3 separate regions of the Homo sapiens genome follow, and all the other regions are linked to region 1. Evidence: fine-mapped expression QTL. A gene starts in region 1. Each other region holds a variant in brackets. All regions are shown on one strand. Distances are between the middles of the regions. Region 1 holds the start of STT3A (STT3 oligosaccharyltransferase complex catalytic subunit A). Region 2 overlaps LOC105369551 (a long non-coding RNA gene). Region 3 has its middle 6.9 kb from the start of SLC37A2.

The links.
Region 2: its variant is fine-mapped to the expression of STT3A in whole blood (INTERVAL, PIP 0.94).
Region 3: its variant is fine-mapped to the expression of STT3A in T cells (TOPMed, PIP 0.98).

The regions. Positions count from the first base shown.
Region 1 is chr11:125,591,375-125,594,138 of GRCh38, reverse strand. It overlaps STT3A (STT3 oligosaccharyltransferase complex catalytic subunit A), which reads right to left and starts at 1,287. Exons shown (of 18, transcript NM_152713.5): 1 at 1,221-1,287. STT3A-AS1 (STT3A antisense RNA 1) reads left to right here and starts at 1,571. Exons shown (of 4, transcript NR_132372.1): 1 at 1,571-1,721. RefSeq lists enhancers at 1,421-2,015, 2,133-2,302.
Region 2 is chr11:125,697,438-125,700,201 of GRCh38, reverse strand. It overlaps LOC105369551 (a long non-coding RNA gene), which reads right to left. Exons shown (of 2, transcript XR_007062934.1): 2 at 584-2,764. Among named protein-coding and RNA genes, the nearest start is that of ACRV1, 18 kb to the right of the region's middle. The variant A/G (reference allele first, on the strand shown) is at 1,695.
Region 3 is chr11:125,055,010-125,057,773 of GRCh38, reverse strand. No RefSeq gene overlaps it. Among named protein-coding and RNA genes, the nearest start is that of SLC37A2, 6.9 kb to the left of the region's middle. The variant G/T (reference allele first, on the strand shown) is at 1,478.

The DNA.
Region 1 (2,764 bases):
GTGTAATGATCAAGTCGGGAAATAATTAGTAGATTCATCACCTTATTTTTTTTGTCTTAGGAATATTCAAAATCCACTCTTCTAGCTATCTGAAAATATACAACAAATTGTGTATTTTTGTTGTTAATTATACTCCTAATAATAGTTATCCTATAGAACACTAGAATTTATTCCTATCTAGTTGTACTTGTGTATCCCTTAACAAACGTTTGTCTATCCTCCTCCATGAATCTTTTTTCCCACTATTATTGGAATAAAGGAGAAAAACAAAACAACAACAACACTGGACTAGGTGGAAGGCATATAGAATGCTAGCCCCAACACTGAGAAGTCAAGCATGTTCTCCATAATTAACTGTCCCAGAAGAGCAGTTTAGAAATGTGTTTAAGTATAGTCCCAAAGGGAAAGCTTACTTTGCAACTAAAAATAAAGGCCTAACTACTCCAGGAGGTCAACAATCCAGCCATATCTCTCAGGGTTTGCAGCTGTTTTCTGGAATGCCTGAAATAGGAACAAACTTAACACCACTGCGTTGATACGAGCCACACACCAAAATGAGACTGCTAGGATCTCTACTTGAAAACTTGAGTAAACGAGCTAGTCATTGAGGGCAGGGCCGTAAGGGAGATTTCATCTCGTGCTCTTTGGTCACTTTCGCACACCGCCAAGCAAATAAGAGCAAAGACACCTTTCTTAAAACACTTACCAACCTGCTCTCCTCAACTGTGCCCTGCAAGCTGTGGCATCTCCTGCCACCCTGCCTCTAGTTTCCCAGACTGCAATTTCCCCAGCCCCGTTTTCCTACACACGTTTCCACACCCTCTCACGATCTTTTACTCTCTTCTCCCTTCCGGTCGTTCCAGCGGGTCCCACCTCCCTCTTCTTCCCACCCTCAAAGAACTGACCACCTCTGATACCCCTCAGCGCGGGACACTCATCACCCCAGCATCCTACGCGCCTTCCCCTCCATAACTAGTCCCAGGACCCAGTCTTTCCCACGCTCTGTTCTCAAGACCCACCTTACCCTCCCTCCCTAGACCTTCGCATCCTTCCATCCAGGAAGCCCCCACACCACGCCCCACGCCCCCTCCTCTGCAAGGCCCTAAGCTCTGCTCTCCACCCCCATTTAGAGTTTTGCCTCCTGCACTTCGTTCAGCCCCATCAACGCCATGGACTGCACCTGCCGCTGATTTTCAAGTTACGTTCTACGGCCTTCTCACCTGGCCGGCTTTCCTAAACGATCCGCGGGGCTCCCTCAGCCATCCGTTCAGCGGCGCACCCAACCCTGGCAGGAGCCGGGTCCGCCTCCCGGACCGCTCCCCCGTTGGCTGGCTCCAGGCCAATAGGACGCTTCTGGAGAGCGATAGGGTCTCGGAACTGTCTGTCAAATCCGGAGGCGTAAACCGGGCCGCGATTCAAGTTTTTAATTGGTCATTACAGCTATCACTTAGCAGTCTAGAGGCAGGTCTGTATGCTCCCGCCGAGCTGTCATAGGCCGGCGCGTAGGAGTCAAGAGCGCGGAAAGAACGTGCCCCAAGCAGTTTGGTTGAGGGCCGAGGAGTGACGTGTCGGTTTGCGGACCCACGGGGAGTCGCAGTGGGAAGGCGCGGCCCACTGACTCCCGTCATGTGACAAGAAGCGGAAACTACGCTGAAATAGGCCCTTGCTCCAAGTCCCAGTAACTCGGAATGCGGAGCCGCTCGTCTCCCGTCTTTTTTAAGGTAGAAATTGTTACCTAATACAAGGTGAAAGGAGAGGAGGGAAGCATTTTCTACCTATTTATTCTCAATTAAAACTCAAACGCGGACTGGTCCAGACAGTTCGTCTTTTGCAGGATGTGCCTGATAGTTGACTCGAGCTTTTACTGTGCCTTGGTAACTGCGATGGACCTGGGAACCTTGACAGAGTTCACAGCCCCTGGTTTTGTGAAAGAGCGTGCCTAGGCCTAAAGGGGTTGTCGGGGCTAAGCTGGAAGCATTTCTACTGCCAGCTGAGACAGCCACCGCCGCGGAGGCACAGCCCTCCCCAGCAGCAAGCGGGCTTCCTCGGGAGACCGGGAGGCAGCCCGGCCATGCTTAGTCAGTTCAGCCCTTTGTTAAAATACCGGCCAGAGAGCCGCTCTCCCTATCCTAACTTGCCTCTCTTCTCTCGCACCCCACGCGCTCCCCGACCCCCAATAAGTTTGCTGAGGGCAGAGAAGGGGACGAAGTTTGAGCAGCAATTCCATCATCTCAGACTCGCACGTGTACACCTTTATCCTCAGGCACTTCCACTCCCTGCGCGCCTCGGTGAGCCAAGGCTACACCAGAGAGAGTGGGAACGTCTCGCAGCTCTTCGAACTTGTTGCCTCTACCACTCACGCAGTTTCCTATTCTCCCATGAACGGAACCCACCACTTATTGAAAGGTCATTATTTAAATCACTGCTTCAGAATCACATGCATTTTTTTCAAAATCCACATGACCAGGCTCGCCCCAGGACGTTATGATTCAATAGATCTGCTTTTTTTTGGTTTTGTTTTTAGTAGTAAGTGTTCGATGTAATTTTACTTTAACAAAAGGAAACTGAAGCTGAGCCTGAAGGAATTACAGAACTTGGAGTAAATGCTTCTTCAAAATACGAGTTTTGGTCGGGCGCGGTGGCTCACCCCTGTAATCCCAGCACTTTGGGAGGCCAAGGCGGGCGGATCACGAGGTCAGGAGGTAGAGACCATCCTGGCCAACATGGTGAAACCCGTCTCTACTAAAAATAGAAAAATTAGCTG
Region 2 (2,764 bases), 110 kb before region 1:
CCAGACTCCACGTTGTCCAAGCAGACAGTGATGCCGCTGAATGCTGGCTCCCCTGCTACTTCTCTGACCACCACTCAACAATCTTTTGGAGAGAGACCTTCACTGCCTTTGTATTTGGGTGGTCGCTAGTGTCTATGATTCATCCACCCCTGTTCTCACTCAACTCACTGGTTACTTCTTTCCATCTCATAACTTAGGCTATCAGTAGGTTCTGGGTGTGTAGGTGGCATCTAAAGCTGATGACCCCACTGGTCTGCCCCAGGCCTTGATACCTTCCTGGACGTTAAGCCCTCTCTGTCCCTCTGCCAAGTGGACATGTTTTCCTGAGTTTTCCCCTGACCCCTCTGCCTCCTGGTGTATGAAATGGAGCCCATTACCTTTCTGTGCTCTCTACAGTCACTGCTAAGTTGTTGGTACTGGAAACTGGGCAGTTAGTCAGTCAAATTAATGCAGGAATGGTGAGGGCTGAGAAGATGCAAGCGACACAGGGCTGCTGGGGATGAGCAGATGTGAATGAAGACGAGAATGAAGCGAGGGTTAATCCATTTGGCATTGTTATAAAGGAATACCTGAGACGGGGTAATTTATAAGGAAAAAAGGTTTATTTTGGCTCATGGCTATACTGGCTGCACAAACATGGAAGCAGCATCTGCTTGGCTTCTGGTGAGGCCTCAGAAAGCTTTTATTCATGGCAGAAGGCAAAGGGGGAGCAGGGGTGCCACATGGTAAGAAACAAAGCAAGAGAGAGGAGAGGAGGTGCCAGGCTCTTTTAAACCACAGCTCTCATGTCAACTAATACAGTGAGAACTCACTCATTCCCATGAGGAGGGCATCAAGCCATTCATGAGAAATCTGCTCCCATGACCAAAACACCTTTCATCAGACCTCACCTCCAATATTGGGGATCACATTTCAACATGAGATTTAGAGGGGACAAACATCGCAACAATATCACAGGGTGAACTGAGAGTATTTGGCGTCAGAAGGATGGAGCCAGTAGCCTGGAGAGAAGTGAGGAGGGATACTTGGAGGGCACTCCAGGATCCTGCAGGCTCAGCAGGAGCACGTGGGGAGGGGGAGCACACCAGAGATACTGGCACAGAAAGAGGTGAAGGGCAAACCACCACTGCCAAGGAAGTGATGGTCAGTCAGTCTTCGTGGTCATTAATTGTCCTTTATTTCTATTACAGAAGTCTTGATCTTTACAGCAAAAGGTTGAAACCTTCAGGTCATAAGATACATATGTGAAGGCGCACATGTATTTAAGCAGTTCAATTCCGTGTGATTATAGAACCACCCACCTGGAAGACAGGCATTCACATTTAGTGCCAGAAACAATACTTTACCTCAAAGTGGGGAGACCTTCCCCATCCATGCCACGTCTGGTCCCCGAATGCATTCACCACCCAGCAAGGCTCTCTCAGACTGGCTCACAGCATTACCTGTCTCAGCAAAAATGAAGAAATCCCTGGTTCTGCATCCAGAGCCATGGTTCACAGTGCAGTTGCCCTTGCCTATTAAACTGGCCTCTCTTAAAAAGCTTGCACACCATGCACATTGTGGCATCACCTGTAGAAAATAAACGTGAAGGCTGTGCCCAGGGCTGAATGGGCTGAGACCAAGGTGGGCTAGGCCACTATTAGGGCCCAGGAGTTCAAGGGCAAAGAATAACCCTAAGAACATCTCCCAGCATA[A/G]TCTTAGAAGGTGGAAATGTTCCCATCAGATTTTGTCCATTAGTTCCTTAAGGAGCTGGAGATTTGGTAAAGTGATTTAATTTTATTGAAAATAAAAGAAAAGGTATCCCTTTGACAGTGGTGCCTTTGTGCAGAGCACAGTCAGAGCATCTACATACAACTTCTCTGAGGTTGATGATCTCTTGGGAAATGAAAGAGGCATAAAGACTGTGCTGGCTTCAAGGAAGAGAGGCATTCTCACAAAGTTTCCCACCACACCCTGCTAAAGAGGTATCTGATATCCAAACATATCTAAGTGAAACTTGCCATGGAAAGATTGTACAGGATGTTTGCTATGGAAACACTGGTTTAGGATAAGCCCTTCAGTGACTTCTACCTACTAGACCACTGTCCCTAGGTTGCTTCTATATAGAAAGCCTTGAGCAATCATTGGCTCTGCCACATAATCCCAGCCAGACAGCCTCAACGCCCCATGTTGAGAAACACACACCAGCCTTGATTTTCCCAAGTGAGTGAAACCTCGGGAAGAGGCCTGACCTCTTGCCCTGGTAGGAGTTGAGGTGGGGACAGCAGAGAGACACCTCCAATTCTTGTTGGTCAGATCATCCCAGAATCTTGGTGTTGACCTCCTCCCGTGCTGGCCAGATCATCTTCAGCCTGCTCGCCAGCTATCTTCGCCCCTGTTCTCACCTCCTGCCCCAGCCAGCCCAAACCCTCACTCACACCTTGGAAGAACACAAGAGGAAAAACCCCCAGCAGCAGGAGCATGAGCGGGAACTTGTCCATCTCAGTCTGGGAGGTAAGAAAGACACAGCAGGGTGGCTGGAACCAGGCAGCTAAGTGCTCCGGAAAGGCTAAGACAGGCTGCTTCAGTGTGCAGATGAGAGCAGGCTGGAGAGTCTGGACTGAGCTGCTCCCAGGCTGTGGGCAGAAGCTTCCTTTTACACACTCGCCAGTGGGTGTTTCACCACTGTCCAGGCTCAGGAAAGATTTCCACAGAGCCAGCCCCTTTGGAGCTGCCAAGAATAAAGGACATCCCTGAAGCCCCGTCCTGTTCCTCATAGGTGAAG
Region 3 (2,764 bases), 540 kb after region 1:
GTAAAGAGCGCCCCACCCCAACCACCAAGGTGTCATGGAGGTCACATGGGGAGCAGTAAGGAGCCCATACAGGGCGATATCAATGGAGGCCTAGTGGAGAGCCAGAACTCCCACCCTTTCAAGCAGTAATGAGGTGCCCTGCCCTGCCTCCCCGAACCAGGGATGTTAACAGAGGTCAAATAGGAAACCTGGACTTTCACCCCCCGCCACCCCTGGCAGAGTAGATAAAAAACATTACCCAAATACATGCTGTCACTTTCCTAAGAAACTAAAATACACTTACCATACACTTATTGTGCTCCTGGGCTTTTATCCCAGATAACTGAAAATTTCCATCCATACAAAAACCTGTACATGAATTGTCCATAGCAGCTTTATCTATAATAACAAAAAACTGGAAACAACCAATATGCCCCTCAATAAAGTTAAACAAATTGTGGTACATTCATACCATGAAATACTACTCAACAATAAAAAGAAATGAACTATTGACATAATGGCATTATGCCAAGTGAAAAAAAATCAATCTCAAAAGGTCACATACTGTATGATTTCATTTATATAACAATCTCAACATGACAAAATCATAAAAATGGAAAAGGGATTAGAGATGGACTGGAGTTAAGGAAGGTGGTGGTTGAGAGGGGTGTAACTTTATAGGGGTAACACAAGGGAGGTCTTTGTGGTGACAGAATAGTTCTGTATTTTGTTTGCATTGGTGTTTACGCAAATCAATGCATGTGATAAAATAGCAGACACACACATACTGTACTACGGTTATGTCAAATGTAATCACTGGGGAAAACTAGGTAAGAGGTACCAGGACGCCTCTGAACTGTTTTTGTAACTCCCCGTGAATCTATCCTTAGTTTATAAAAGTCTTATATATATAAAAGCTCTGTCAACTTTAATTTCCTTTTAGTAGTTCTCAGTTTTCTAATTCCAGAAACAGGATGGGAGAAATTTACTTTTTAAGTAGAAATCTTTCCTTTGGAGAATATGCTATGGAGCAGCATGGTCAGCTGCCCATATTAACTCAAGTACCTCACTAGCAATACAGATTTCAGTACTGTGCCTTGGATTCCAAGTTACGATACTCGTTTTTTTTCTTCAACTTTTAAGCTCAGGGGTACATGTGAAGGATGTGCAAGGTTGTTACATAGGTAAATGTGTGCCATGGTGGTTTGCTGTACAGATCATCCCCTCACCTAAGGATTAAGCCCAGCTATTCCCCCTGGTGTTCTCCCTCCACACCCAGCCAGTGCCACCCCCAGCCCCCACCCCGCCTCTGACAGGCCCCAGTGTGTGTTGTTCTTGCCATGTGTCCCTGTGTTCTCATCATTCAGCTCCCACTTGTAAGTGAGAACATGCAGTGTTTGGGTTTCTGTTCCTGCATTAGTTTGCTGAGGATAATGGCCTCCAGCTCCATCCATGTTCCTGCAAAGGACATGATCTTGTTCCTTTTTATGGCTGCATA[G/T]TATTCCATAGTGCGTATGTACCAAATTTTCTTTATCCAGTCTATCATTGATGGGCATTTGGGTTGATTTCATGCCTTTGCTATTGTGAATAGTGCTACAATGAACATACCTGTGCATGTATCTTTATAATAGAATGATTTATATTCCTTTGGGTATATACCTAGTAATGGGATTGCTGGGTCAAATGGTATTTCTGTCTGTAGGTCTTTGAGGAATTGCCATACTGTCTTCCACAATGGTTGAACTAATTTATACTCCCATCAGCAGTGCAAAAGCGTTCTTTTTTTCTCTGCAATCTTGCCAGCATCTGTTGTTTTTTGACATTTTAATAATAGCCATTCTGACTGGCATGAGATGGTATCTCATTGTGGTTTTGATTTGCATTTTTTTAGTGATCAGCGATGTTGAGCTATTTTTTTAAACGTGTAACTCTGCTTTTATCGAACAGCTTCATCGGCACCTCTAGACGGCTAGGAGATAATACTCCTCCCTACTACTCAGACAAACAAATTTAACTTGCAGAGAACAGACATGCCTGGTTCACACAGTGATGCTGGTGGAAAGATGAGACAGAAGCTCTCCCCAAGGGCCACTCCATTTGTAGAAACAGATTCCTTCTTATCATTTGGGACTAACCTCTGTCCCTGTGACCAATTAAGCCTATGATAGGCTTAATTAAGCCTAAGATAGGCTCAAGGAAGTTGTGGGAATGCCTCCCTGCCTTACACTGCTCCTTAGGTCTACAACTAGGAATGCATTCTTATTGTAACATCGTGAAGCAAGAGGAATGAAACAGGGAGAACAGGTTGAACAAATGAAAATGGAAATGGGTTTAGAAATCAAAAGCATGTGACTTCAAGAAGAACAATCATGCCTTTCACAGGCAAGGACTGAAAGGTCTTCAAGTGAAGAGTTTTATTAGTAAGATTAAAGAAGGTCTGAATAAACAAACCAGCACTACACAATAAAGACTGAAGATATCCCTGCTGCCTCTAGATGTCTACAGCATCCCCAACAGGTAAGCTCCAGATCTGGAAAAACTCAACTCTTTCATCTGCTTTGTCCCAGCAAAAACTTCATCCTAGAATTTCCCTACAACTCTGTAACACTAGCCTGAGAGCCCTGGCTCCTAGTACACTGTTGGCATTCCTTATTGTAAAATATACGAAGAACAGGCTACAAGAGTCAGGAATCAAGATCAAGATGGAAATTTCTGGGAAAAGAGTGCTGATCCACTCTACCTTCTTAGAAACTCATTCTCAAGCCCAAATGTTTCTTTCTTCAAA